2 separate regions of the Homo sapiens genome follow, and region 1 is linked to region 2. Evidence: fine-mapped expression QTL. A gene starts in region 2. The other region holds a variant in brackets. All regions are shown on one strand. Distances are from middle to middle. Region 1 overlaps PIK3C2B (phosphatidylinositol-4-phosphate 3-kinase catalytic subunit type 2 beta). Region 2 holds the start of PIK3C2B (phosphatidylinositol-4-phosphate 3-kinase catalytic subunit type 2 beta).

The links. PIP is the estimated chance that this variant, and not a neighbour inherited with it, causes the effect.
Region 1: its variant is fine-mapped to the expression of PIK3C2B in whole blood (TOPMed, PIP above 0.99).

The regions. Positions count from the first base shown.
Region 1 is chr1:204,450,351-204,465,078 of GRCh38, reverse strand. PIK3C2B (phosphatidylinositol-4-phosphate 3-kinase catalytic subunit type 2 beta) reads left to right here. Exons shown (of 33, transcript NM_001377334.1): 4 at 475-629; 5 at 947-1,067; 6 at 4,418-4,529; 7 at 4,676-4,755; 8 at 5,138-5,201; 9 at 7,205-7,351; 10 at 8,009-8,042; 11 at 9,028-9,223; 12 at 10,288-10,410. Among named protein-coding and RNA genes, the nearest start is that of PIK3C2B, 37 kb to the left of the region's middle. RefSeq lists silencers at 2,584-2,878, 7,692-7,892 and enhancers at 6,763-7,262, 7,263-7,764, 9,272-10,249, 11,842-11,951. The variant G/A (reference allele first, on the strand shown) is at 9,964.
Region 2 is chr1:204,486,750-204,501,477 of GRCh38, reverse strand. PIK3C2B (phosphatidylinositol-4-phosphate 3-kinase catalytic subunit type 2 beta) reads left to right here and starts at 6,673. Exons shown (of 33, transcript NM_001377334.1): 1 at 6,673-7,122. LOC124904584 (translation initiation factor IF-2) reads right to left here and starts at 9,727. Exons shown (of 2, transcript XM_047439554.1): 1 at 9,717-9,727; 2 at 5,746-7,302. The coding sequence starts at 9,727. The coding sequence ends at 6,282. RefSeq lists silencers at 6,524-6,993, 8,553-8,632 and enhancers at 7,094-7,223, 7,294-7,483.

The sequences.
Region 1 (14,728 bases), 36 kb after region 2:
CAACAAGTGTCTGCAGGGTTTTTGAAATCTTAGAAGTCTCACATTTTTAGCAAAATTCATGAAACCTCCATTGAATGGTCAAAGTATCCTGATCACTCTAGAGTCTGACCCTCAGTTGCCCTTAAGAGCAAATGCACCCCAGCTGGCGATAAGAGTGTTATCTGGAACTAAAAGAGAAAGGAAATGGATTCATAAAAAATTTTCCATTAAACTTAGCATGGAAAGCTTTGTCATTTTAGAACTATTTGTACTGTTCAATGGTGGGAAACATTTTGCAATTATAAGAGAAGTGTCAAGAAGGGGGTTTCTCAGAGCTGCTACCCCACTGCCCCCATCCTGGCCTGCAAATTTGGAGGGCTGGGCTGAGTGGGGACAGAGGGGCTCTTGAGCCTCAGAGCATGAGGTTCCCAACAGATGTCTTCTTGACTACTCTCTTCTAAAGGCACAGTGAGGGTTTTTTTTCTTCCTGTACAGCCTTCGATCTGGCTCTGACATCCAAGACTACTTCCTCACTGGCTATGTCTGGAGTGCTGTCACCCCTAGCCCAGAGCACCTCGGGGATGAGGTCAACCTGAAGGTGACTGTGTTGTGTGACAGGCTTCAAGAGGCACTCACTTTCACCTGCAACTGTAAGTTAGTGAGGGGGGAGAGGATGTGAGCATCCCTTGAAGTGGGGTGGGGATGACTGTGTTTTGACTCGATTTCCACCTCATCTTGTGGCCCAGATGAAGGGCAGTGAGGATGCTCCTTTGGGGGTGAGGGGCTGGCTATGGGGCCAGCATTCTAGTACAGTCACTTTCCTCAACTCTGAACTACTTGCCTGCTTTATCTGGTTGGTGATGGTGCTGGAGAATACTTAGCTGGAAAGGGGGATCAGGGTGGGGAAACTGAGACCCATCTGCCTTGACATCCATCATGATTGCTCCCCCTACCTTACCCTTCACAGGTTCCTCCACTGTAGACTTGCTTATCTACCAGACCCTGTGCTACACCCATGATGACCTGAGGAATGTGGACGTGGGTGACTTTGTGCTAAAGCCCTGCGGGCTGGAGGAGTTCCTGCAGAAGTGAGTGAATGGGTGGGAGGTAGCCCCTGCCTTCCTGGTAGTAAGATTGTGAGGGGGCTTCATGGGATTGGTGCTGGGACCGGCCTGGCAGCTCCGCCCCAATCCCACAGTCAAGACTCCTGCTTTCTGGGCACACTCTCGGCCACGTAGCACTTTCCCCAGGAGCTCTGTCTTCCAGCAGGGTTGGCTGACGTCCTGAGCCAAGTCTGCTGTGGAAAGAGCTTGGAGCTGGGATTAGGCAAAGACTAGGTCATATCTGCTTGCAGATTCTGCTTATGGAGAGATGTGTGTATTTGTGGGGAGGGGTGGGCTTGGGGAGACTATATGGGTAGTGCTGTATCTCCTGCTCTAGATTATGTGTGGTGTTTTTATGGCTGGGGCAAAATGAGGACTGGGCAGAAGTTCCCTTGTGGAGCCCAGGGGAGAAATTACAATTACTGTCTCTCCCCATTCTCCTGCCAACAAGTCTTTTCCCCAGCTGGCCCGTGCAGCTAGTTATCCTCCTCCCAAAGGCGTGCCTCCAGCTCCTCTCCATCCAGTGCCCTCTCTGGAAAGCAGCCTCCCTGGAAAGTCTGATGTGGACCAGCTGAGGCAACCCCCTTTCCACTACCCTGGGCTCTGGAGGGCTGCAGTGGAAGAGAGGCAGGGGCAAGGTTATCACTTCTCAGATGGTACAGCTGTGTGACAGCAGACAGATAAGATCTGCTTTCCTCTCTTAGGCTTCAGAGCCGCTCCTGCCCCCAGTCTCTGTCCACTTGGAGGAAGCACGTTTTGGGAATAGAGAAAGGAGAGACCTGTGTCTCACTTCTTAGGAGTGCCCTATAAGTGCCACTGCTTGCTTTTTCTCTCTCTTACATTCAGGTCTAGATGCAAGGATGGTTGATCTATGTCTAGAGCATAAGATTTGGCAGTCAGGATGGAAGATTCATTTCTGGACTTCTTTCTTTTTTTGAGACAGAGTCTCACTCTGTCGTGCAGGCTGGAGTGCTGTGGCGCCATCTCACTCAGCTCACTGCAACCTCCGTCTCCCAGGCTCAAGCGATTCTCATGCCTCAGCCTCCTGAGTAGCTGGGATTACAGGCATAAGCACCACCACGCCCGGCTAATTTTTGTATTTTTTAATAGAGACTGGGTTTCACCATGTTGGCCAGGCTGGTCTCGAACTCCTGACCTCGGGTGATCTGCCCGCCTTGGCCTCCCAAAGTGCTGGGATTACAGGTGTGAGCCACTGTGCCCAGCTATCTGGGCTTATTTCAAATTTAAGGATATTGTGGGGTCCTTTCTGGCCTCTGCCTCCTCATCTCGAAGCTAAGGGAAAGGAAAGAGGCAGGGTTCTGTATGGTACAACTCCAGGGTACCCTTCAAATGTGCCCCACCTTTAAACTCACTTATGTACACACTTTTCCCCTAGAGGAACAGGAGGGGTCCTAGACTCAGGGTTGCCTGGCAGAGAGAGTGCCAGGTGGCCTGCCACTGTTAGAAGGGAAAAAGGGGACATAGTGGATAAGTTGGAGCTCCTGCTGACGCCATTACACAGGTTTGAATTCGGACTTGCCACTTACTAGTTGTGAAGGCTGATTGATGCTCAGGGCCCTCTGTAAGCTGCAGTGAGGGTGAAATGTGAGAATGACCTGTGAGCAATCAGTAAATACCAGCAGGGAAGGAGCAGCCCACGGAGAGAAGTCCTAGGGCTCTGGGCTGCACAGATACTGCCATTTCCCTTGCAGCACCCCAAATCCTGGAGCCCCTGGGTCCGGAGGTAGTGGGAGCTGTCAAGTTCTACCTTCCTGCTAAGACTCAGGTGAAATATTCTTAGTGAGGTGGGACAGGGTCAGCGGTCCTCAGATCACACCCCTCATACTCTCACTTGAATGCACAGAGAGGAAGGCCTTCCACAGAGAAGATCAAGCAAGTCCCCAGGGGACCTGTGTGCATGACTCCTGGCCTAGGAGCCCCACTCCCACCCAACAGAAAAGCACAATGCTGTCTCCTGGCCCAGCCCCCAGACCCCCAACACATGACAACTGCCTGGGATGGGGGTGGAAAGGACGCTCCGGGGGTTCCAGAAATCTGCTAGTTCCCAAGGAAGCCCTGAGATTTTCTACCCCTGCCTGGCAGGAGGGGCTGATACTGAGGGGGTGAGTGGGTTCAGGATGCAGGCTGCTCTCAGATAAGAACCTTGAGGCAGTCCCGTGGGAGGGTTGGGTTTCCTGCCACCTCCCCCAGCCCCACCACACTCTTCCTTCCTCCCAGGCTCTCCCACCAGGCCCAGCCCCACAGCCCAGCCTCACCACCTCCAGGTTTTGGCTGCACTTCAGTCTTAGATCTGAGAGGGTCTAGATCGGAGATTTGGTCCTCTCAGGATGTGGAGAACCCCTCACTCGAGCCCTCATGGGACCTAGACGACCCTGGGCCCTGCACCTCCGCCAGCTTTTACATATACTGCCCCCCTTATGCTCCTGTCCTCTCCTCTCCATTTCTGGCCTAGATTCCCAGCTCTGCTGAGGAAGGAAGTCCTTTTCCGGCTTCTGTTACCCAGCTGCTGAGGCCAGGCCCAGGCCTGCAGTGCTGGCCTGGAGGTAGTTCTCCCTCTGCCCCTCCTCTTGGGTTTCCTTGCTGTTGAAGGTGTGATTTGGGAGAGAGGAAGAGGTTGGATCGCCGAGGGCTCCTAGGCCTTCTCTCTGAAAGGGGGAGTCTCACACATGGGTGCTTGAGCAGGTGGGACTGGCATGCATTTGGGACTTTTCAAGAAGTCATAGAAATTTGTAAGGTTATTCACAAGCAGGCAGGGCCAACAGATGGAAGGCAGAAAAAGAAGTTGGGTGGGGACACTGATCTGGAGGCTTGGTAGGCTTGCCCCAAGTTTTTTTGGCCTCAGCACCCTAGTTGGTAGCATTGGAAGAGGGGTCTCTCGCTGAGCTCCCACCCTGGAGCCTGAGCACAGGTGGACTCCAACATGTCTCTTCCTGGTTGTCCCCTATACAGAGGCCCAGAAGATAGGGCTTCAGCAACTGCTCCCTGTGATGTGCCTCTGTTTCCCCGCTCTCTCCAACAGTTCCCAGCCCTGGAGTGAACCAGTGATTACCACACGGGTAATAAATATCTAAGAGAGTCAATATTTATACCGGCCAAGGATTAAGTATATTAGGTGGCTTTTGTTTAGATAGACCTCTGTTCCTTCTCCTAAGCTCTACCGTGTCATTTTCTAGGAGCCAAAGTAGGGTACAACACGGGTACTACCCCCTTACCTAAACCTTCTTTCTGTATGTCTCTCCCCAAGGCTAAGGTATGTATCTCCCTTGCCACTGAGTCCCCAGGATGCTAATGGTCTTGTCCCTCTACCCTACCAGCAAGCATGCCTTGGGCAGTCATGAGTACATCCAATACTGCCGCAAGTTTGACATTGACATTCGGCTACAGCTGATGGAGCAGAAGGTTGTGCGCAGTGACCTGGCCCGGACGGTTCGTGTGAGGGTGGTGGAGGGTTGCCCAGGGCTGGGGAGGTGGAATGGGAATACAATATAGAACACATCAGGTGGGAGGGGGGTAGGAGTGCTGAGCTGAGATAAGGGCACCGCCCCTCTCTGAATAGGTCACTTCTTATACAGGTGAATGATGACCAGAGCCCCTCCACCTTGAACTACCTCGTCCATCTCCAAGAGAGGCCTGTCAAGCAGACCATCAGCAGGTGAGTGTGGGCACCATCTTGGATGTGCTCCAAACAAGAACTGTGCAGGGATCCCATCAGATGTGCCTGCTTGCCTTTCTGTCAGGGCTAAGGGATTCTTGCAGGTGTCAGGGGTTGGGGCCCACACATCTTATCAGAGAAGATCCCCACTCCAGGCATGTTTCATTTCTTCCCTCTGGAACTTTGCCATCATTCTCTCCAGGCGAGAAGTGGCAGAATAGAAAGACTCTCCCTCTATATGTCTTCACAGGACATATAGAAAGAGTGGGAACTCCTTTAAATCAGAGTGTGAGCTGAGGAGAGGGAGGGAGAAAATGGGTTTCCCAGGGCACTGGGTCTTTCATGACCTCTCCTGTGGTTTTTCCCTGCCCCCAACTCCCAGGCAGGCCCTGAGTCTTCTGTTCGACACTTACCACAATGAGGTGGATGCCTTCCTGCTGGCTGATGTGAGTACGAATCCAGGGGCTGGCCCTGCTGCCCGAAAGCTCCTCCTCTCCCCTTCCTCAGTCCTCCTGGGATCACCCAGCACTATGAGGGGTCTGGGTGGAGCCTGAAAATCTGTTGGCAGAGCACTTCTTTTTAACCCCTCGCTCATGGGCAAACTAAGACTACTAGATGTTGGGCAACGGCAAGTGCGTAGTCAGGGATTCTGCTCCTCTATAGAAGAAGCAGGTCGGAAACTGCATGCTGGTCCCATTCTCTGGAATAGGATGTCTCCAGAGCTAAGGAACCTAGAGCTGTCACCCCCCAGCTGCTGCACTTGATGTACACTGGAGCATGCATCCTATGAGCAATGTCAGAAACCTCCAGTTTGAGAGGTTCTGTTTTGCTGTTATCGCAGGTAGGAAACCATCAGGAGGTAGAAGGTTTCACATGTAGGGAGGGCCAGAGCCCTCCCCACTTGGATTCATGCGGAGTCTCAAGCCTCAAAACCATGAGAGTCAACATTTGTCTTAAATGTCACAACGCCAAAGAAAATCTGACAGTGATCTTCAAAAATAATCCCTTGCTGAGTGTGATGGCCCACGCCTGTAATCCTAACCCTTTGGGAAACTGAGGTGGGAGAATTGCTTGAACCCCAAAGTTCAAGGCCAGCCTGGGCAACACAGCAAGACCCCATCTCTACAAAAAATACAAAAGTTAGCCAGGTATGGTGGCACACACCTGTAGCCCCAGCTACTCTGGAGGCTGAGGTGGGAGGATCGCTTGAGCCCAGGAGTTTGGGGCTGTGTAGTGAGCTATGATCACACCATTGCACTCCAGCCTGCGTGACAGAGTGAGACCCTATCTCAAAAAACAAAACAAAAACCAATCCCTGTCTCATTGATCCAGTTAATAGTAGTCATAAACGCTTCCTTTTTGAGGGGTTCAGCATTATGTCTAGTCACTGCCAGAATCCCTTCTCCAGCAGCCTGTGCTTGAACATTTCCAGTGATGCGGGGGAAGCTCTCTGAACACCTGTGCTGTGCTGTTCTGGCCCTTTGCTAGTGGCTACGATGGGTAGAGAAGTGTAAGAATCGTCATAGCCTTGGCCAGGTGCGGTGGCTCACGCCTGTAATCCCAGCACTTTGGGAGGCTGAGGTGGGCGGGTCACCTGAGGTCAGGAGTTCGAGACCAGCCTGGCCAACATGGTGAAGCCCCATCTCTACTAAAAATACAAAAATTAACTGGGTGTGGTTGCAGGCGCCTGTAATCCCAGCTATTCAGGAGGCTGAAGCAAGAGAATTGCTTGAACCCGGGAGGCAGAGGTTGCAGTGAGCCGAGATCGCGCCATTGCACTCTAGCCTGGGTGACAGAGCAAGACTCCGTCTCAAAAAAAAAAAAAAAAATTGTCATAGCCTTTGGGGAGCTTGTGTTCTTGTTAGAAAAATTGAATAGTAACACAAAGCTATTAGTAGACAGAACAGGATGGTAATAAATTAATTAAGGGCTCCTGGAGGATGCTAGAGGAAGGGGATTGGCCAGGGAGGGCTTTATGCAGGAGGTAGAATTTTAGCTGCTCTGTGATTTAAATGTACATAGGTAATCAGAGCTGGACAGGTGAGGGAATTCCAGGAGCATAATTCCAGAGGGGAGGTTATGGCTGTGGCATGTCTGTAGAAATGAGATGAGATCTGTCTGGAAATTCTACAGGTCTCTGGGAGAGACCCTGTATATATGTGTATAGTATAAGTAGACTAACTATAGAGAGAGGCTAGAGATAGGAGGAGCTTCAAGGGGAACGGCTGAAAGAATTGGGGCATGTGGGCATGGCCCATTGAATTCAGTGGGAGAGATTATTTGCTGATGATGAATATTTGAAAATAAAATGTATTGCACATTTACCCCTGAGGATCATGAATCTCTCTACTCTTCCCAACCCTTTCCTTTAAAGACTGGGGTGGGGAGGGGTTGGAGACCAAGAGCATGAGAGCAGAGCCTGCCAGCCTCACTGTGCCACCTCCCACAGGGAGACTTCCCACTGAAGGCTGACAGGGTGGTCCAGTCCGTCAAGGCCATCTGCAACGCCCTGGCCGCCGTGGAAACCCCTGAGATCACCAGTGCTCTCAACCAGCTGCCCCCCTGCCCCTCCCGCATGCAGCCTAAAATTCAGAAGGTAAAGGGGCCCAGGGTGCTAGCAGGGGAAAGGAAGAGAGGGATACTGTCAGGTAACTGAGTTGCCTGTTGCTAGAGTGTGTAGGTGTTCACTCACTAAAAAGGGGCTTCTCTCCACCTCCATCTTTTATGTTTAAGGAATTCAACCGCAAGAGCTCTTCAGAAATGGATGCCAAGTGTGTCTCCTCTTCCTGAGGTTGAGGGAGAGCTACCTGGGACTGCTTGTTGAGAGCCCAGGCCAGTAAAGGCTTTATTCACAGTCACCAAGGCATTGCCTGACAGTCTGCATATCCATCAGGGTGCAAAAACAAACCAGGAGGAAAATCTCTCTAGAGCCAGGGGCTCCAGGACTCCAGCAGGGGCTGTGTGCTCTGCAGACAGGGCCAGCACCATAGGCACTGTGATCTGCAGCCGAGTAGCCTGAGGGTTGGGATATCTCAGAAGGGTGGACCCGATGATTGCTATCCTCCGTCAGCTCACTCTGTCCATCATACAGATCTGGTACAAACCATTACTCTCTCCTCTCTGGGGATTCTCAGCTACTCACATTTCAGCCCATTCTGGTCCAGATGAGCGCAGCTGTGAAAAGCCCTTCTTCCAGCTGTGACGAAAAAGGCTATGGCCCTGAAGCTCCCCTCCCTCTTCTTTTTCCCAACAGGATCCCAGTGTCTTGGCTGTGAGGGAAAACCGAGGTAAGGGAACTGCTCTCCATCTTCATCCAGTCGGGCTGCCGAAAACTGCAGTCTCTGCCCCGATTCCTTTTTCTGCCTGGGCCCCTTGATTTATGTGTCGGAGTTCGGCTGGTGTGTGTGTGTGTGTGGGTGTGTGTGTGTGTGTGTGTGTGTGTGTGTGTGTTCCTATATGAGGTGTGGATACAGCTGGAGAGCACATTTCTTTCCACAAAGTGTTTTCTTATTATTTTTCCTAGTCATTCCTCCTGGTGTCCCTGGGAGATGATGATGAGGGGGTAGAAGTGTGGGAGTGGGGTGGTGGGGCAGCACTAGCCCTGTGATCCAGATGGGAAGCCTCCCACTTGGGTAGATTGTGATTATTCTCCCAACAGCTCACACTTGCTACCTTTCCGATTTAGAGTGGGCCTTGGGAGAGGATGAGAAAGAATTTTCCCTACGATTTTTCTAGGATTCCCCTGTTGTGCCCTTCAAGCTGAACTTTGCCCTAAGACTGACCTATATCCCTGGGATTCCTTTGTTTTGGTTTTGTTTTTTGTTTTGGCATCCCTGGGATTCTTATGGTGATTCCCAGTCTTTTGGATTTCATAGACCAGTAAAATGTCCCCCAAAGTATTTGGGGGACCAAGAGAGAATTGGCAGCCTTTTACTTGGCCAAACTTTTTTGACTTTTGCTTTTTTGAAGCAACTGACAATAATTATTAACACTGTTTCCTAAAAGAAAGGACATTTTAATGCTAAGTAGCAATACGTAAAAATAAGGATTATGTTTAACATTGTATAACTGTCATTTTATGAAAAGCTCATGACATGCTTCTGCTTTTTTCTCATTTTACCGCAGATGGGTGAACTTTGTCACAGCTATTAGAGACTGACTAGCATTTGGGGACCACTGTCTTAGGCCATCCCATTCTAGCCAATGCCATGGCAACAAGGTAGGGCTTGTGGAGGCCTCATGACTTTCCCTTCTGACCCCTTCCCTTCCCAGAGAAGGTCGTGGAAGCCCTGACCGCTGCCATCTTGGACCTGGTGGAGCTGTACTGCAACACATTCAACGCAGACTTCCAGACGGCAGTGCCCGGGAGCCGCAAGCATGACCTGGTCCAGGAGGCCTGCCATTTCGCCAGGTCCCTGGCCTTCACTGTCTATGCCACCCACCGCATCCCCATCATCTGGGCTACCAGGTGAGCCCAGGGCTGAGTAGCCGCTAGGGAGCAAGCTGAGTTTGACCTCCACCAGGGCTTTTTCCTATCTGCATGTAATACCACTGTCCTAAGTCTTAGGATGTGTGGCATTGTGTGACATTGTGGTGCAATGGGGCTGCGGGGGTGAGCCAAGTGCCTGAGGAGGACTTGGGCTGGGGACATCCTAGAGGAGAGAGGAGGTCCCTTAGGAGATGAAGAAGATCCTGTTATTCCCTCTTGGTGCTGGCTGCCTCTGCATCCCTGCCCCCTCCAGATCCAAGACCAGTGGAAGGAGACATGGCAACAGATGGCCGATTCCCAGATAGAGTGCACGCTCCCTGGCCAGTGGGAGGGGGTGGGGAGGTGGGATTGACCCTTTGTCTGGGGTTCTCTAGGCCTGCAGGGGTGGGTGGAGGAGGATGTTCTTTTGGTAAAATCCTCAGCGCCTCTGTTGGGTCCCCAGCATCCAAGGCCTGAGGGAATAGGCACTGGGCCCTACCCCGCCCCTGCCGGTCCCCTTTCCCCAACCCCCTTCCCCTTCTCTCTTTGTTCCTTACTTAATGTATTCCTCTGGGCGATTGGCAGAGAACAAAGGAGGCAGCCTGGGAAACCGGGGCCTTCTCTGACCTCTTCTGTCAGGCACCTGTCATGAGCCACAGGGACCCCCGTGTGTTGGCATTCATGTCGGCATATGTCGTCTTCCTCCCCCACCCTTCTCACTTGCGCATGCACGTGCACGC[G/A]CACACACGCACGCACACACAGACGCTCCATGGGCTGGAGCTTTCTATAAAGAGGCTGGGTGGCCAGTTCCCATTAAAGGAAGAAAAACAACAAGGCTCAGAATGGAGCCTAAAACCGAGCAGAGGAATCTAGATTGAGTTGCTTTGGCCTGAGCACATTTCCTTACATCCAGTTTGGCTGTCCTATCCGGAGATCCTGTGTTACAGCCCTCAGAGACTGAGAGTTTTACCAGGGGAAATGGATTTTGGCCTTAGAGGGACGCATAGGTTTGGGTGATTGGTTTTGGGAGCTGGGTGTCCTGACCTGCTCCCTTTCTTTTATAGCTATGAAGATTTCTACCTCTCCTGCTCCCTCAGCCATGGCGGCAAGGAGCTGTGCAGCCCCCTGCAGACCCGAAGAGCTCACTTCTCCAAGTACCTCTTCCACCTCATCGTCTGGGACCAGCAGTAAGCCCTTCCCCCAGGCTTCAGTGCCCAGGCCACTGTAGACCTGCTCAGCCTCTGAAATATCCCTGGGGCCAGATAACTAGTCCAGGACTAATGATAAAACCAGGCTCCTTGTTAACCCTAACTGGACAAGTCATTCAACCTCTTGAGTCTCCACTTCCCTGACTCTTTTTTTTTTTTTTTTTTTGAGAGGCAGCCTCGCTTTGTTGCCCAAGCTGGAGTGCAGTGGTGCGATCTCGGCTCACTGCAAGCTCTGCCTCCTGGGTTCACGCCATTCTTCTGTCTCAGCCTCCCGAGTAGCTGGGACTACAGGCGCCCGCCACCACGCCCAGCTAATTTTTTGTATTTTTAGCAGAGATGGGGTTTCCATGTGTTAGCTAGGATAGTCTCGATCTCCTGACCTCGTGATCTGCCCGCCTCGGCCTCCCAGAGTGCTGGGATTACAGGCGTGAGCCACCACGCCTGGCCTCCACTTCCCTGACTCTTAAAGGAGCCAAGTATAATTACCACTTCTCAAGTTGTCATGAGGATCCAATGAGAAGTATCTATAAAGGCTCTTTGTAAACCATAAAAAACATATAAATTTTAGTTGTTGACCAGGCGCGGTGGCTTACGCTTGTAATCCCAGCGCTTTGGGAGGCCGAGGCGGGCGGATCACCTGAGGCAGGGAGTTCAAGACCAGCCTGACCAACATGGAGAAACCTCGTCTCTACTAAAAAAAATACAAAATAGCCGGGCATGGTGGCGCATGCCTGTAATCCCAGCTACTAGGGAGGCTGAGGCAGGAGAATCGCTTGAACCCGGGAGGTGGAGGTTGTAGTGAGCTGAGATCGTGCCATTGCACTCCAGCCTGGGCAACAAGAGCGAAATTCTGTCTCAAAAAAAAAAAAATTAAATGTTAGTTGTTAATTTTAATAATACTTTATTTTTTGATCTTGTCTCCCTTAAAGAGTTTAACTAGTTGGAGGGCTTCTCATCCTCTCCCTTCTTCCCTCAGTTCCTGTAGACTATGGAGAGGAGACTGTGCTTTTCCCTTTATATATAGAGAAGGGAGGGTTGTCTAGAGAAAGAATATTGAGCTTGGATTCCCAGGAGTGAGCCTCTATTTCTAGCTCTGTCTCGAATACTACTTTCTCTCTATTCTTTCTGTGCCTCATTTTTTCAAACTGAGAAATGGGGACATTGGTTTCACTCAGAGGCAGTTATGGCGTCGAGATGAGATAGGTGGGTTATAAATATAAATATGAAACCAAAAGCACAAGGTAATATTAATCACCACATGTAAACAATAATTTGGTGTCGGGAAGGTAGGCGTCAGCCAAGCAAAGCAGGAAGGAAACGGAGGAGAGGGTGCCTTGCTTGAATGGGGGCACCGCAGGGGTTTTCCTGCCCTGTGCTTCATCTGTGCTATGCTCTACCTTCCTTCCAGTCAGTCAGAAAATCCCCTGTTTGCTGCCCCCGGCTTTGCTTCCCCACACTGACTATATTAGAGTCCTCATTTGCAGAGCAGCACTGCAAGCTAAGTATTTGTAGCACAGATTAAAGAGACTGAGGAGGGTCCTGGGGAGGCCGAGGATGCAAAATAGGTAGATGAAGAATCTGGAGATGCTGGAAGAGGTGGGTCCTTTTACAGATGGACAACTGGGAAAATGGACCCTTTCTCATGCCCTTCACACTTAGGTAATTCTTAGAGCAATAAAGGTGTATATGGCTGGGCACGATGGCTCACACCTGTAGTCTCACCGTACTTTGGGAGGACAAGGCGGGATAATCACTTGAGATCAGGAATTTGAGACCAGCCTGGGCAACACAAAGAGGCCTTATCTCTACTAAAAAATTATTTTAAATGAGCTGAGTGTGGTGGCGTGCATCTGTAGTCCTAGCTACTTAAGAGGCTGAGGTGGGAGAGTCACTTGAGCCTGGGAGGTCGAGGCTGCAGTGAGCCATGATCACACCACTGCACTATAGCCTGGGCAACAGAGTGAGACCCTATCTTAAAAAAAAAAAAAAAAAAAAAGGACATGGGGTGTGCATTAAAGGTCCTCAAGCAAACAACTGCCAGGACAGGAGAAACTCCTTGCAGGCAGAGGATAGCTGCATTAAATGGCCCTTGAGTTCCACCATTCCCTTGGGATTTTTTGGTCACAATTACTGCTGCTGTCAAGAGAAGGGGTGCCAGCCTGGGCAACAAGGGAGACCCAATCTCTACAAAAAATACAAAAAATTAGCCAAGTGTGGTGGCATACACCTGTGGTTCCAGCTACTTAGGAGGCTGAGGTGGGAGAATCACTTGAGCCTGGGAGGTCAAGGCTGCAGTGAGTATCCAGCCTCGGCAACAGAGCGAGACCCTGTCTCAAAAAAAAAAAAAAAAAAAAAAAAAGGGTGCTGCACAGTGTTCTGGCCCAGGAGGAACTTTAAAAAATTGGCCTTAAACCCTTTACTCATACAGTATCAGAGGTAGAGAGGCAGCCCAGCCTGCCCCATGAGTTTCATTTTGTTCCCTGAGATCCCCACCTTGAATTTTAAAGGGGCAGTCCCCTGCCTAGCGCCTTGTGAAGGGCACTATCTTGCACTGTCCATCCAGAAGCCCCGAATGAGACTTCTTGGCCCTTCATGGTCAAGACCAGGACATTTGGGGGAAGGCGTGCCAGCGTTCAGAGGACAGTCTTTGGGCCAGTCATTCTCTCCTTCCTACTGTAGTTGCAGCCTGGGGCAGGTCTTTCAACCTAGAATGGTAGCGATAATAGGGCCTACCCTACAGGATTGTTTGAGGAGCAGTTAGGACACTGTAAATAAAGTACTTGGCACAGGCTTCTTAGCTGGGGAGCCCTCTTGGTTTTGGTTTCTCTGTTCCAAGTGACTGACAGACTGGCTGATACATGGGGATACGTGCGCATGAAAATACTATCTGTATAAGCCAGTGCCAGTGCAGTAACCACAGCATCACATAGCAAAAAGTACACAGTCTGCACACACATCATGCAAGTGAAGCTATGTTCCCCTTTTCCCTGATGAGAAACTGAGGCACAGAGATGGGAATTAAGTTGCCCAGGATTGTGAGTGGCAGAACCGGGACTGGAGCCAACCAGCACATTCCAGGAATCCTTCCTGGAGGAGGCAGCCTGTGTGATATGAGGTTGTTGAATGGGCTGCAGGAAGGAGAGGGGCTTCTCAGGGAGGAAGGTAAGGGCTGCAGCCAACATAATGGTTATCCTGACCAGCCCTGGGTGAAGATCTGTGGGAGAGGTTGTGGAATACCAGATATACCCAAGGACTGAAGGGAAGAGGGCCTTGGCTGGCTCTGGTTTCACTCATAAAGTCTTCTCACTCCCCTTTTCCTTAAGACACGAAGCTGGAAGCTTCTTCCTTGGGTGAAAAGAAAGGGCTCAGGACCAGCTCCCTCTCCCCTTTGCTATGGGGTCAGCTGATTCTCTGCCCCACTGTAGCGGTCCAGGGATCAGCTAACTCTCAAAATAGGCTCAGCAGCCGTGCTTTGTCACCTCCAGCCAAGCCCTGGCCTGGCATGTCTGCTGGCTGCTGGAGGGGCCCTAATTATAGCTGTGGGCCCCCAGGGTAGAGGCAGCTGGGACAGAGCAGGGCTCTGCCAGTCTGTGGTGGGCTGGAGGGAGTGCCTCACTTAGGTGGAGATTCCTCTGGAGGACAGCGGTGGAGGCAGGCTGCTTTATCATGAAACTGCCAACCTTGGGGGTGGCCGCCCTGCCTCTGCGCCCTCTGGCATAGAAGTTGCTGGGCCCTGGGCTGGCCAGGAGGGTGTGACAGTATGGACTTTGGCCCAGGGACAGCTTCCCCGAAAGGTAACGTGGGTCCTCCCTGCCTTTCCACAGCTCCCCTCCCCTGTGTACTTCACCCCACCCAGCAGTTCCTTATCCTGAGCTTAGAGGGAGTGGCTAGGTGTGATTCAGACTGAGGGACCTGGAGAGAACTTATGGGCTTGAATAGTGGTGGGGCTTATGTGTCTCAGTTCTCTTGGCCCTGCCATTGGCTTTCTCACCACTGGGGTACTTGGAGAAACCCCTCCTCTTTGTCCCTTTGGCTTTGAAGCTGTTTGGGGGTGGGGGTGAGAAAAACCCAGTGTGTGTCCCTGGGGCTAGGTGAAGGGGACTCCTATGAGGACAAGTGAGAGGGCTGTGGGGGAGGGTGAACCGAGGGCAGAGAACATGGTGCTTCTTCCTGGTGGCTCTCAGCAGCAAGAAGTGGGGGAGGGATGGAGACTGTCAAATGGAAAAGGAGGACAAAAGGAGTAGCTTTGCGGACCCTCTGCGGAAATCCTAAAACAAGGAAAGGAGCAAGGCTGACA
Region 2 (14,728 bases):
ATCCTCCTGCTTCAGCCTCACAAACTGTTGGAATTATAGGCATGAACCACCATGCCTGGCTGAGCCCAAGAATCTTACATAGCATCAAGAGCTCAGATACTGGAATAAATACTCCCTAAACAATGCAGCCCTCAAATGTCATGGATCATTGAAAAGGTGTAGGGAAGAAGTAGGACTGATTTCAAAGCCAGTAAGAGTCAAAGGATTGAAGAAGTCAATCTATACATAAAATATTTACAGAGCACCCCACCCCATCTCTAACATCCAATCATCTTTCAAAGATATTTGAATATTTTTGAAGAAAGCCTACTGAAGGATTTTAAAATAAAATTGTTATAAATACTGTCTTTCAAAATATTAGTTTTGAGTTGTATTACAGATTAGTCCTAGCCTAGAGCAGACCTATGAGAGAATATAGCACAGATAAACAGATTCTACCATCATCTCCTTCCATTGATTTCAGCCATTTGCTCCCTCACCAGTAATCTACTTATTATTACCACTGAAATCTTTTTTTTTTTTAAGATAGGACCTCAACTCTGTTGCCCAGGTTGGCATGCAGTTGTACCATCATGGCTCACTGCAGCCTCGACCTCCTGGACTCAGGTGATCCTCCCACCTCAGCCTCCTGGGTAGCTGGTAGTACAGGTACACACCACCATGCCCAGCTAATTTTTTGTGTTTTTTGTAGAGATGAGGTTTTGCCATATTGCCCAGGCTGGTCTTGAACCCCTGGGCTCAAGCAATCCACCAGCCTAGGCCTCCCATAGTGCCAGGGTTACAGGCATGAGCCATCACACCCGGTCACCACTGAAATCTTAGACTCTCAAGCTTTTCATTTTCTGGCTCAGTCACTCTGTCTTCCTGTAAACTAGATCCAGGTTTTCATCCATTCACTTATTGACCAAGAATTTATTGAGCACCAGCTTTGAATGAGGCAATGAATTAGGCCTAGAAATTCAAAGGTAAAAATAATGGAGATTCCTTGTCTTTAAGGCGCTTACAGTCCGTTGCCCTCCTCTTCTGTCCCCTCCCCAATTCAGAAAAAAGTGGACAAGCAATTATATATAACACCCATGATCAGTGTTATAATCCAAGTAGCTATTGGGTGTGTCTAGACACTCTTAGGAGGCACTCTAGGGAAACTTTGCAGAGAATTTGTTGTAGGATGTATTAGTTTGTTATTGCTGCTATAACAAATGACCACAAATTTAGTGGATTAAAGGAACACAAATTTATTATCCTACAGTTCTGCAGATCAAAAGCCCAACATGGGGTTCACTGGGCTAAAATCAAGTATCTGCAGGGTCATGTTCCTTCCTGGAGGCTCTAGGGCAGGATCTGTTTTTTGACCTTTCCAGTTTCTAGAGGCCATTCACCCCCTCCAGCTCAGGACCTCCATGCTTCAACTTTCAAGCCAGCAATGTTGCATTTTTCCAACCAGTCTTGCGTCATCACATCTCTCCCTGACTTCGGCTAGGAAAGGTTTGCAGCTTTTAAGGACTGACGTAATTAGATTGGGCCCACCTGGATAATCCAGGCTAATCTTCCACTCCCAAGGGCCTTAACTTAATCACATCCGTAAAATCCTTTTGCCTTGTAAAATAATGCAGCCATAGGTTCCAGGGATTAGGAAGTGGACATTTCCTCCTTTGGGAGGCCATTATTCTGCCTACCATGTAGAGAGACAGCTGCATAAAAGGAAGCGGGTAGAGGTGGGGATTGGAGGTAGGAGGCCCTTTCCAGGAAACCATGTGGAAGGGCCGTTAGGTGAGAATATTGTGCATTCTAGGAACTGTAGGGAGTTTCGTAAGGCCCAAGTATGAAGTTTACATTGGAATGTGGGAGGCTATTCATTCAATACATATTTATTGAATACTATGTGGTGGGTGCAGTTTGGGAGATGCAGGGATGCACAAGACAAAGTCCTTGTTCTCTGAGGCTAGAATGAAAAGCAAGGGCTGACTGTGAGAGAATTCAGAGTTTCCTTAGGAGATTGGACTTTAAGAGTTAGAGAAAGTCATGCATTAATTCATCTGCCAAAAATTTTGTGAGCACAAGTGCCAGGCATTGTTCTAGGCTCTGAGAATACAGATGTTTAAAAACCAAAGTCAAAAAATGCCATGTCCTACATGTTAGTTGATTTTAAGCAGGAGAAGCAGATGTTTGCTTTGGAAACATCACCCTGGCTGGGTTACTTGAGAAAAGATTGGAAGGGGAATAAGATTAGAGGTAGCTCAGTCCCTTTCCTCCCGCTTCTTGAAGATTCACAGCCTTTGCTGAGCTTCACTTCCGTCCTTGAGGACTTCCTCTTTTGTCAGGAGCCCTCTTTTCCTTTTATGCCTCTACTGTACCTATCTTGGAAACCTGACCTCATGTTCTACACCTGGGCTTCCAAGTGCTGCAGAAGAAAATGATGAAAACATTCGGATGTTTTTATTCATAGCCACAACATATTAGAGTATCCAATGCCAGCTGTATCTTCAACTCTGCTGACAATTCTCTCTCTCTCTCCTCTCTCTGGAGCTACCACTCTCATTCCTTATTCCTTTCTATTTTAACCTTAACCACTTTTTTTTTTTGAGATGGAGTTTCACTCTTGTTGCCCAGCCTGGAGTACAATGGCGCGATCTCGGCTCACCGCAACCTCTGCCTCCCTGGTTCAAGCGATTCTCCTGCCTTAGCTTCCCGAGTAGCTGGTATTACAGGCATGCGCCACCACGCCCAGCTATTTTTGTATCTTTAGTAGAGACGGGGTTTCTCCATGTTGGTCAGGCTAGTCTGGAACTCCCGACCTTAGGTGATGCGTCCACCTCGGCCTCCCAAAGTTCTGGGATTATAGGCGTGAGCCACCGTGCCCAGCAACCTTAACCACTTTCTTTAAGCCTTTAACCTCATCTTGAGCCTTTCTCTCTCAGCAGATTGCTTAGAGACTACAAGGCAGCAACTAGTCCTCTCAACATCTAGTCTCAAGTTCTAGTCTCTTTACCAGTCTACAGATGCCTCTGCTTTTGTACAGCCTTCCTCTCAAAGATATCAGAGGCAGCTCCACCCCATATACCTGGGTCCCAACTCCCTCCTATTCATGATCTCGCTCTCCTTGGTCTTACTCTTCAGCATATGAAAATGCTTAAGCCTTTCTTATCCTAAAAAGAAAAAACAAAAGTCTCCCCTTTGATCCTGCATTCCCCTCTACCCACTGCCTTATATTTCTCCTTGTCTTAAATTGCCAAGCTTCTAGAAAAAGCATGTGTCTTTTATTCCAGATCCAGGTTCATTCATTCACTTAGTGACCAATAATTTATTGAGCACCAGCTTTGAATCAGGGAATGAATTAGGCCTAGAATCCACTGGAGGCATTTTCTAGCCTACCCTCCTGGAGGTTCCTGCTGCACTGGTTATCCAGTCATTCTCTTCTGAGATTCTCCCACCCTAGTTTCTGACACTCTGTGGCCTCCAGTTTTTCTCTTACCTCTCTGGTTGTTTCTTCTTTCCTCCTTATGCCCATCTGGACGACCTCATACAGGCTTATAACTTCACTGACTACCCATAACCTACAGAATCCAAAGCTGCTATCACTTGTTCACACCCCAATATGAGTTTAGTTTCATAAGTTTGCTGTCTACTAGACATCCCCATCTAGACATTCCACAGATACCTCAAACCCAACATGTTCAAAATTAAGCTCAAGATCCCTCTGCCAACACCTGGGCCCTGTCTTTCTAATTGTCCCTAACTTAGGGAATGGTACCACCTGCCAACAATTTCTAAGGCTTCAAATGGGGAGTAATTCCAGAGTCCTCCTCTTCCCTAATTTCCTACATTTTATATATTTATCAAATACTATTGATTTCTCTTTATAAGTATCTTTTGTATCTGCTCCGTTTTTTTCATCCCCACTGCCACAGCTCTGGCACAGTTTTGAGATTCCCTGATTTCCCACCTGGAACGTAGCCATGGTTTCTCTGTTGAGCTCCCAGGCTGCACTCCTGACTTGTGTTACTAGGTCCTGGCAGAAAGCAAATGGCACACTGCACTTGAGGGGTAATTTGAGGAGAGGTTAAAAAATAAGGGGACAATTTATAAAGGGTCGGCGGAGTACAGGAAAACCACAAGAAATAGTGTACAATCTACTAGGGCCAGTAGCAAATCAATGTTTCCACCCCCAGGCCCGAAAAGTCAAAGGAGGGGAGTGATTACCTGAATCAAGAGAGAGGGAGGGGGCTGGCACTGTGGCTCACGCCTGTAATCCCAGCACTTTGGGAGGCTGAGGAGGGTGGATCATGAGGTCAGGAGATTGAGACCATCCTGGCTAACAAAGTGAAACCCTGTCTCTACTAAAAATACAAAAAAAATTTGGCCGGGCATGGTGGCATGCGCCTGTAGTCCCAGCTACTCAGGAGGCTGAGGCAGGAGAATCGCTTGCACCCGGGAGGCAGAGGTTGCAGTAAGCCACTGCACTCCAGCCTGGGCAATAGAGTGAGACTCGGTCTCAAGAAAAAGAAAAAAAGAAAAACAAAAGAGAGAGGGAGGGGAGAGAGAACCACCCGTGGAAGCTGTGATCTTTGGTTGAGGGTGGCAGCCAGCGCACTGTGACCCCAAAGAGAGGAATCCTGAAGAATAAATATCCAGTTTCCCCTGACCTCCCTCCTTATTCAATCTTCAGCCATGGCCCCCATTGGCCAACCCAGTCTAGGAAGCCAGAGGGCCAGGAAGATCTGGAGGGGCAAACGGAAGACATGCAGTGCATCTTCCAAATCCTTCTCTATAATATGCCAGGAAGTCTTTTTCTGGTCACACTACTTCCCAGTTCCATTTGTGCACAGCAGGTTCTCTGTCACCTACAGCACCTAAACTTTTTGGCATGCCCTGGTTTCTCTTTATTCAATTTTTTCCTTACCAAAATGCATGATAAAGCCTGTGATCTGATCCTCCACTCAGCTACCTATGCCTACTTCCTGTTAGTTCTTTCCTTCAGACTTTTCACCCCAGCAGCATAGAACCACCAGTGGTCGCCGGGCGCGGTGGCTCACGCCTGTAATCCCAGCACTTTGGGAGGCCGAGGTGGGTGGAACACAAGGTCAGGAGATCGAGACCATCCTGGCTAACACGGTGAAACCCTGTCTCTACTAAAAATACAAAAAAAAAAAAAAAAAAAAAGAAAAAATTAGCTGGGCATAGTGGCGGGCGCCTGTAGTCCCAGCTACTCCGGAGGCTGGGCCAGAAGAATGGCGTGAACCCGGGAGGCAGAGCTTGCAGCGAGCCGAGATCACGCCACTGCACTCCAGCCTGGGCGACAGAGCAAGACTCCGTCTCAAAAAAAAAAAAAAAAAAAAGAACCACCAGTGGCCCCTGTAACACTCTGTTCTCTCAGGCTCCTGAGCTTGACCTGATGACAGACACAGAGTAAGCTGTCATAAATATTTGTATGGTGAAGAAGTGCACGGACACGTTTTTTAACCCCTGTGGCTCCTGAGATCAGGAGTAGCATCATATACATTATGACATATGTGCAGACCAAGCTGCCTTCAGTTAATTATCAAGATGTTTCACCTACATTCTCTCCTTTGATCATTACGAAAGCGTGATAGGTGAGGACGCTATTCTTGATATTCAGAGGGTGAAGTGGAATACTGAAAGTCACAAGCATTGGGTACAGAAGGCACTGTAGGATCAGAAAGGGGAGTGATCCCTTTCCTCCCCATCATAAGAGTCACAGCCGACACTTCTATAACAAAAGACAAGTTAACCAGAGAAAAGCATAACAAATTTATTTAATCATGGTTTTACTTGAGAGGCTGAGGACCAGGTGTTAATCTTCATAGTCTGTCGAGAAAGAAAGAAGAAATGAGGGCAGTGGAGGAAAACACGATTCACGTTTTTAGGAAAATATACTTTGAGATTAGTGATCGTTGGTACTATGCAAACCAAATGCAAACGAGGAGCTGGCCAACTCATGGTTTCTTTTGGGTGGAGCCTTTAGGAAAATTCTTCCAGAGACCACTGCTGGAAGAAAGGTATTTAGAGTAGAAAATTTAAATATAACATATTGTATGAAAGGTTTTTTTTTTTTACTTTTTTTTCTCACTACCCTAGTTGGGTTGGAGGATCCTCTATCTCCCCTCCCTACTTAGGTTGACTGCTGTTTCCTGGATCGCAGCTCGGAAGATCCACCTGGGCGAATACAAAAACAAACGAGACTCCCCTTCCAGAAAGGGAGGAAGGAAGGAGACAGAAAGACGAATGACACTGAGCGTGTAAAGCCCGGAGACAGCCTCTCTCTACCCCAACCTAACCCTCAAGGTAGGGGATCCCCCGAACATCGCTACCGTAATTATGGTAGAAATTCCTGAAACGGATAACTGGACCTCAGCACCGTCATTTCTAGCAGAATGATTGAGCTTTCCTCTGACCCAAAGCCAAGGGGTTCCAGCAGGGGAAACTAACGACCATCCGCAAAAACCCTCACCCAAGTGGGGAGTGGAAATCCTGGCTCTTGGGTTGCAGAGCACAACTTGACGCCAGCGCGTTTCTCTTCCCCCACGCAATGGCAAGTGGGGCGGGAGTCGGAGGGGAGAGGAGGAGAGGAGAAGAGAAGAGGAGGGGGAAGGGGAGGGGAGAGGCGAAGGGCGGCCCGGGTTCCAGCAGCCGCCCCGCCCTCCGGCTCGCGGCGGATTCGGCGCTGCGGCTGGAGCCGGCGGCCGGGTGCCTGCCTGTCCAGGCAGGGTCTGGCCGAGCGTCGCGTCGCCGTGCAGTGCGCCGGGTGTCCGGGAGATGGCTTCCCCTCTCTCGCCCGCTGCTGCCGCTATTGTCTCACCCGGGGTGGCCTGACTCTGCGAGCTCGCGCACGCTCTCGGCGGAGAGCACCCCTCCCCACCCCCACAAGCTGGTCCTTGCGCCCTTTGCTGCCTCTCCCTCTGCCCCTTGGAGCCTAGGGTCTGTGCGGAGCCTGGAGAGGGGAGCGGCCCGGGAGCAGGCGGCGTGCGGCCGGCCAGCTCCTCTCGCGCTGGTGCAAGAGGCGCCTGGAGCCGCAGAGCGAGCCCGGGAGGCGCGGAGCGAGCAGCCCACGTCGCCAGGCACAAGACACGTCGGATGTTGCAGCAGAGCCAGCAGCTAGCGCAGGTAGGACACGCATCCTGCGGGTTGCATCGGCCCCAGCGTCTGTAAAGTGCCCCCAGAGTGGAGGCAGCCGAGGTCAGGGGGCTCTCCCTCCAACATGGCAACAGCGGAGGTGCAACAATGGAAGCAGCCGAGGGTTCCTGGCGGCGGGCTGAGCGGCGGACGCCGTGGGAGCCTGAGCTCCTGCCCGCCGGGCAGAGCAGGTTGCCCCTCACCCCACTCCACTCCACTCCAGCAGCTTCAGGGCCTCTGGGGCTCCAGGCACCCGCGTCCCCACCCCCTTCTCGCTAAACACACTTCCTGGCTCCCAGCTGCAGGGCGATCTGAACCAGTCAATGGCTTTGGGGTTTGTTTATTTAAGATAAGAAATAAAAAAAGCAAAACCTGTCCTGTGATGGGGTTAGTGCCTTCTGTGGACTGGGTGAGAAGTCGGCATCTAGCCTGGGGAATGTGTACGTTTCTTAGTCGGGCGGAGGGTAGAATTGGATTCTCCCTTATAAGGATACTGCAGCAAAAGGAGACTGAAAGCTTGAAAGAGGGAGAGGGACCCTCAGGCCTGAGTTCGCCGGTGCTGGGAGAAGGCGCTGCTCTCCTGGCCTATACTTGTCCCTCATTTTCAGCTCCCGACAGCGGTGACTTTGATGTTGGAGGAGCAATCGCAGCAGGAAGCACAAGCAAGGCTGCCAAGCTGGTGTGGGGTGGAGTAGGGTGGGGAGCCCAGGGGCTTGGCAGGCTTCTGGATTGTGGGAAGAGGTTACCAAATGTATGAGGTTAGTGCACACACCCTAGTTGGCTGATGTTGAAGTGTGTGTGTGTGTGTGTGTGTGTGTGTGTTTTCTGCCATTGCTCTTGCTCCTTCAGGCCTGCCTTTTCTCCTCTCCACCCGCTTCTGGGGTCTTCGTAGCTTCCCTGCCCCAGCCCTTCCAATCATGCCTGGGATGGAATCGCTGTATTGTCTCTGGCAGCTCTCTTGGGCTGTTTTTTCTCAACTCTGTTGGAGAGTTTTGTACCCTGGGCTGGCTGGTCCCAGCATGGCACCAGATTCTTTAGCAGGCGGCTACCCGGGCTCCAAGAAGTGGGCCAATGCTGCCCCTCCTCCTTGCTCTAAACTACCTATTTGGGATATGGCCAGGCAGATGTAAGCAATTTGTACTAAATTCCAACCCTGAATCAGTGCTGAATGAAAACTTACTCTGTTGCTGCATCAGGCTTTGGGAAGATATTAGGAAGAGAAATGGCCCAGGAGGTGGCAATGCCGACCCCCAAATACTTCCCTCTCCCCAACTCCAGCTGCCGATCCCAGAGCAGACAGGCAGTGAGACTTTGGAATCCCAGCTCCTCCAGAGTCTGGCTGGCCCATCTTGAGGTTGTGTCCATGGAAAAATTAAGTCGAGGCACATTTTATAGCTCTGCTTGGCAGCCAGCATCTGAAGAGATGGTGGCTCTGAGCTGGAGCCCTAGACCCAGGCTGTGGCTGCTTCTCCTTTGGCCTTTGGGTGAGCCTGAGGTTTGATTGCCATGGCTCTGAGCTTACTGCTGAGTGTGTATGGCTGAATCTGATCAAGCTCTCAGACCCGGCTGCTTGTCTATTTCCTTCTCCACTGGAAGCATGAGTGAGAAAGGGCCAAGGGGGTGTGCTGGGTGAGGAAGGGTCAGTTTATCTGGGGACTTGGGCTGTTTCTGGGGGAGCTCCTTTGGACTTCCTTGGTGGTCTGGAATGCCTTTGGTCTTTGTCATGACCTAGTATGCTCTGGCAGATACTCTATACCCTCGTGGGCCTTTGGTCCCCGCTTGGTGGTGTCCCCACTCCTCCTGTGCCTGGTGCTTTGCATCTATATCATGTCTGTGGTGCTTCAGCTGGGATGGCCCTGGCCTGGACCAGTGGGTAGAAAAATGAGGTCTCTGTTCCTTTTAGGGGCTTGTAACTAGCTATAAGGTTCAGGCTCCTCATGTTCCCAGGATGTGAACTTGGACATCATAATGTGAAGTAGTAGAGAAAACAGTGTCTTGGTGTGACTTTCTTTTTAGCTATGTGAGCACAGACAATTTGTGGACCTAAGATTTAGTTTGTATATTTGTAAAATGGAGGTGGGGGAGTAGCCATGGCTCACAGGATTAATAATGAAATGCTGCTTACCAAGAACTAAACAGAATCATGTGTGCAAAAGTACCCTGAAAACTACAGAGTACTTTACAAATGATTATTCTTACTGGGTTTAGCCTCCCACATAAGGGAGGGAGATCTGTGAGGGATGGGGATAGGGTGGGATCTGAGGGCCACATGGAGTAGGGAATGTTTTGGGACCTTTTCTTTCTTGCTAAGGAAAGAGTAGTGTGACAATACCAAGGTAACTGCTGTATTCCTTGGGTATTTTTCTTTAAATAGTGTTGGCAGGATGGGAACTGGGAGAGAAGGAAAGGATGCCTCATGATATTTGTAGGAATTGAGGAGGGATAAACACCTTCCAAAGGCTGGCTACTGCCTATAGAGAGGATAATGCTGAGCTGGCAAGTAATGTAATCACTAACACTCACTGATGTCAGCCAGCTAGTAAATGATAGAGGTGGGATTTGAAGCAAGCAGTCTCACTCCTTACCCTGTGTTCATAGCCTCAGTGCTACTCAGAGAGATATTGGGTCTTGGGAGAACAGAAAGGGACAGCAAAATTGTGGAGTTCATTCTTTTTGTTTGTTCTTGAGACAGGGTCTCTCCCTGTTGCCTAGGCTGGAGTGCAGTGGGCTCAAGTGATCCTTCGACCTCAGTCCCCACCCTGAGTAGCTTGGACTATAGGCATGCACCACTACATGTGGCTAATTTTTTAAGTTTTTGTAGAGATGGGGTCTCAGTATGTTGCCCAGGCTGGTCTCAAACTCCTGGCCTCAAAGGAACCTCCTGCCTTGGCCTCCCAAAGGGTTAGGATTATAGGCATGAGCCACTATGTCCAGCCTCAGAATTCATTTTTTTTTTTTGAGACAGAGTCTCACCCTGTCACCCAGACTGGAGTGCAGTGGTGTCATCTCAGCTCCCTGCAACCTCCGTCTCCCAGGTTCAAGGGATTCTTGTGCTTCAGCCTCCCGAGTAGCTGGGATTATAGGCGTGTGCCACCATGCCTGGCTAATTTTTTGTATTTTTAGTAGAGACAGGGTTTCACCATGTTGGCCAGGCTGGTCTCGAACTCCTGACCTCAGGTGATCCACCTGCCTCAGCCTCCCAAAGGGCCAGGATTACAGGTGTGAGTCACCATGTCCAGCCTCAGAATTCATTCTTAATGGATTCCTTGAATGCCCATGAGACGTCACCAGCCTGGGACATCTCATGGGCATGTAGGCATAATAAATTTTTCTGGGCCTCATCTGCTTTTCTATGCATTTTTATTTCTATGTCTACCTTCCAAGGAAGGAAGAGATGTGGGATAATCTGATCAAGTCATATTGCTGCCTTCTGAGCAACACTAATAGAAGGTTTGGGACTTGGAGGATCCTGGGGAAATTAAGGCAGATTTCTTGTTTTGGTATTTTCATATCTGCTTTATTTTGCATCTGTTTTATAAAATGAAACTTGAGGGACTATTCTTGCCTTTTTTTTTTTTCTTTTTCTGTTGAGACAGGATTTCACTATGTTGCCTAGACTGATCTCGAACTTCTGGTCTCAAGTGATCCTCCCACCTCGGCCTCCCAAAGTGTTGGGATTACGGGCATGAGCCACCTCTCCCAGCTTGTTCTTGCATTTTGTAAGATCACATAGAGTATCAAAACTGGAAAGGACCTGGGCCATCACTTCCCTGAGAAAAAGTGACTTTCTCAAGGTCATGCAGTTAGTAGCAATGCTGGAACTGAACGCCTACCCCGCAGATCACAACATGACCCGTGAAAGGACCTATCCTGCAACACTTTGGAGTTTCGTGCCGACCCAATTAGTGGCTTTGTCTTTGGGAAATTTACTTCCCCAAAACACTGGGACATTGGGATGGAATTCACTCACCCCAAATCATCACCCTGGTTAAGGAGACTAAAGAATCAGAAGACATTTGTGCTTTGGGGAGCAGAGGCCCTCAGGGTATAGAGAAGGAAGAAGAGAGAGGTTCACTGTAGTCCTGAAGCAGAAATAAGACCTGTGGCTGAAGGAAGCCTTAGCAATTCACTCCTTCCTCTTCCTGAGAACTCTCTGTAGGAAGTCTCACCTAGCAGAGGCTTCACAGTATTTCAGAGAAGCCAAAGATTGTTTGCCTCTTTGGAAACTGTTATCCTTCCATCATGACTGTGTCACTCCTGCCACTGTTCCACCATAGAGGTGGGTGCCTAATATTAGAGAGTTGTTTCACACACGTGGCTCATTCCTCAAGCCTCGCTAAGCCAAGCCCACCAGGAAGAAGCTTGAGTGGAAGCATTCTCTCCAGCCACATCTTTCTCTCTTTCTCTCATACTAGATGGCGTCCTTTGCAGCAAACCGTAAGTTATAAGGATGAGGGAAGAAGAGTAGAGGGCCAAAAGGATTCCATTTTGAGGAAAAACTACAGTTTGCCTTGCCAGGTAGAAGAATCAGGTATGAGTTCTTTTTGTCTCAGGTAATAAACTAAGCAAAGCCCAGATAGTAGTAATGATGGAGCCCTTCAACTATTGACGTCTCCCTAAGAGCCCTCATTTTCTGAAAGCAGAGTGTTTGTCCCATTCCTGACTCGCCATGCTGTGTGTCTCCCAGAGAGTGAAAGAAATTGCTGTGACTGCGAGCACCAGTAGAGTGGATTTAATTCTCACCAAGAAAAGGGAGGTGGTTTGCAAATGGGTTGTTTTGGGATCCTGGGAGAGGAACATTGTAGCCAGAGATATTAGATTTTCACTCTAGACTTTAAGGAGGCAGATTTTTTTTTTTTTTTAAATTAAAAGATAGGGGCCAGGAATAGTGGCTTATGCTGTAATCTCAGCACTTGGGAGACTGACATGGGATGATCACTTGAGCCAAGGAGTTTGAGACCAGCCTGGGCAACATAGCAAGACCTTGTCTCTACTAAAAATAAAAATAAAAACAATTAGGGTGTGATGGCGCACACTTGTGGTCTCAGCTACTCAGGAGGCTGAAGTGGGAGGATCTTTTGAGCCCAGGAGTTTGAGGCTGCAGTGAGCTATAATTGCACCACTCTGATTGCATCCAGGTTTCACTGTAGCCTGGGTGACAGAGTGAGACCCTGTCTCTGAAAATAATAATAATAATAAAGAGCTTGTACAATTAACTTGAGAGGAGCCAAAATTTGAGTCTAGGTCAGGAAACCTCTAGAACCTGTGTTCCTTCTGTGCTATGCTGAAGGGGACTGTGAGAAAAAAAATGTTCATGAGGCTCGAGTCCTGAATGAGATGGAGCTTCCCCAAGAGCCAGTAATGACACAAGTGGTTCTTAAAGTCATTTCTGGAAGACAATAGGATCACAAGGGTTTAAGTCTATCAGATCATGTTAAAAAGGAACTCATTCATTTATTCATTAATTTGACTAACATCTTGATTGTTTACTAGTGACTTTAGGTACTTTTAAGTCATTGAGTGGGGGAAATATGGGTTGCCTTGTGAACTCATCAGTGGGGCCTTTTTGATGGTCAGACTTCTTGGAGGAAATTAAGTGTTTGCAGAGATCTGAACAATGAGTAGGAATTGGGGCAGGATGGGGAATGGAGTGTGGTGAATGAGGTGAACTGAAAGCAGTTTAATCTCGCCAGAGCCACTGAAGGAGTTTGCATTTTATCTTTTGGGCATTCATTCCACCATTGTACATTGAATGTGCACTGACACTCTTCTACGTGCACAGCAGTGAAGAGGACAGGTAAAACCCTTGCCTAGTGCTTGGTGTTCTGAGAAAACTTAGTTCACTCATAGTTCTTAGTCCACTAAGAGTAGTTCACTAAGAATTAAACCAAGCTTTTTAATGTTACTGACAGGAATTCTATACTGATAGATAGGGAATTACTTGGAGAGATTCTCTAGTTGAATGCAAGGAAAGTTTGAGAAGGACTCTCATGATAATCCTATAGATTATACAGGGTAGAGACAAAAGGTGGGTTAATGATTGGTTGATTGTTCATTCAGCAAAAACATCTTCAGTGCCTCTTCTCATTCATTCTTACATTTATTCACTCATTTATCAAATGACTGGCAGTGCAAGTTCGGCAGATGGTTAAGAGCACGGCTTTGGAGCCAGATTACTTGGGTTCAAAGCCTGGCTCCACCACTTACAAGCTGTATGACCTTGGAAAAGTTATTTAACTTATCTGTGCATCACTTTCCTCATACGTAAGATGAGGGAAATAATAATACCAGACAAAATTTGTTGTAAAATGAAATGAGTTAATTAATGAACTACTTAGAGCAGTGCCTGATGCATGTAAATGGTGACTCAACAGCTCATGGTTCTTGTAATTATTATTCCTCAATAGCAGGTTTGTGCTAAATTCTAGGAATACAACCTTGAATTGAGTGTGGTCCCTGACCTTGAGGGAACCACATTGCACCCCCCTCCCACCCAAAATGCAGGTAAATGGATGAGTTTCTTCATGGAGTGGGGTAATCCTATAAGCTCAATATGAATCGATTGTGATAAGGTGCCCCAAGAGTTATATATATACAGTCTTAGGCAGCATTTCCCAGCGTCTTAATATATAGTCTTAGGCAGCATTTCCTAGAGATTATAGAAACTAGAACTGTGGTGTTTATTATTTTGGAGATCTCTAAACTTAAGAATCTGATAAATGCTGTGGGGTGTCTACTTGGAAAAATACATTACAATTTTGCCTTCAAACAGCCTCCAAACCTCTGATCCTATGATGAGGAGCTGTTAACTCTTCTCCTCTGGGTTGGTCAGACCACGCTGAGAACACAGTATTAACAGTTCTGTACTGGAGCATGTACTTCGTGTAAAACATTGTGCTAAGTATCCTGGGGGAGACAAAGATAAATACGAGGTAATCCATGCGGTTTAAAGGCTTAGTGGAAAAGAATGTTTTGTATGTAATGAGATGTTTGTAGATACATGTTGAAATGATAAAAGTAAGAATGTTCATCTTGAGCAATGGAACGAGATTTATCTATACAAAAATTTAAAAATTAGCCAGACATGGTGGTGTGCACCTGTAGTCCTAGCTACTTGAGAGGCTGAGGTGGGAGGATCACTTGACCTGGGGAGTTTGAGGTTACAGTAAGCTATGATTGCACCACTGCACTCCAGCCTGGGCAACAGAGTGAAACCCTGTCTCTTTAAAAAACAAACATAGAGGCTGGGCGCAGTGGCTCACGCCTGTACCAGCACTTTGGGAGGCTGAGAAGGGTGAATCACCTGAGGTCAGGAGTTCAAGACCAGCCTGGCTAACATAATGAAACCCTGTCTCTACTGAAAATACAAAGATTAACTGGGCCTGGTGGCATGTGCCTGTAATCCCAGCTACTCTGGAGGCTGAGGCAGGATAATTGCTTGAATCCAGGAGGTGGAGATTGCAGTGAGCGGAGATTGTGCCACTGAACTCCAGCCTGGGCAGCAGAGCGAGACTCCATCTCAAAAACAAACAAAAAACCAAACAAAAAATGAAGGATGTTACTTAAAAGTTGTGTTGGTAACTGTGTTAATAAATAA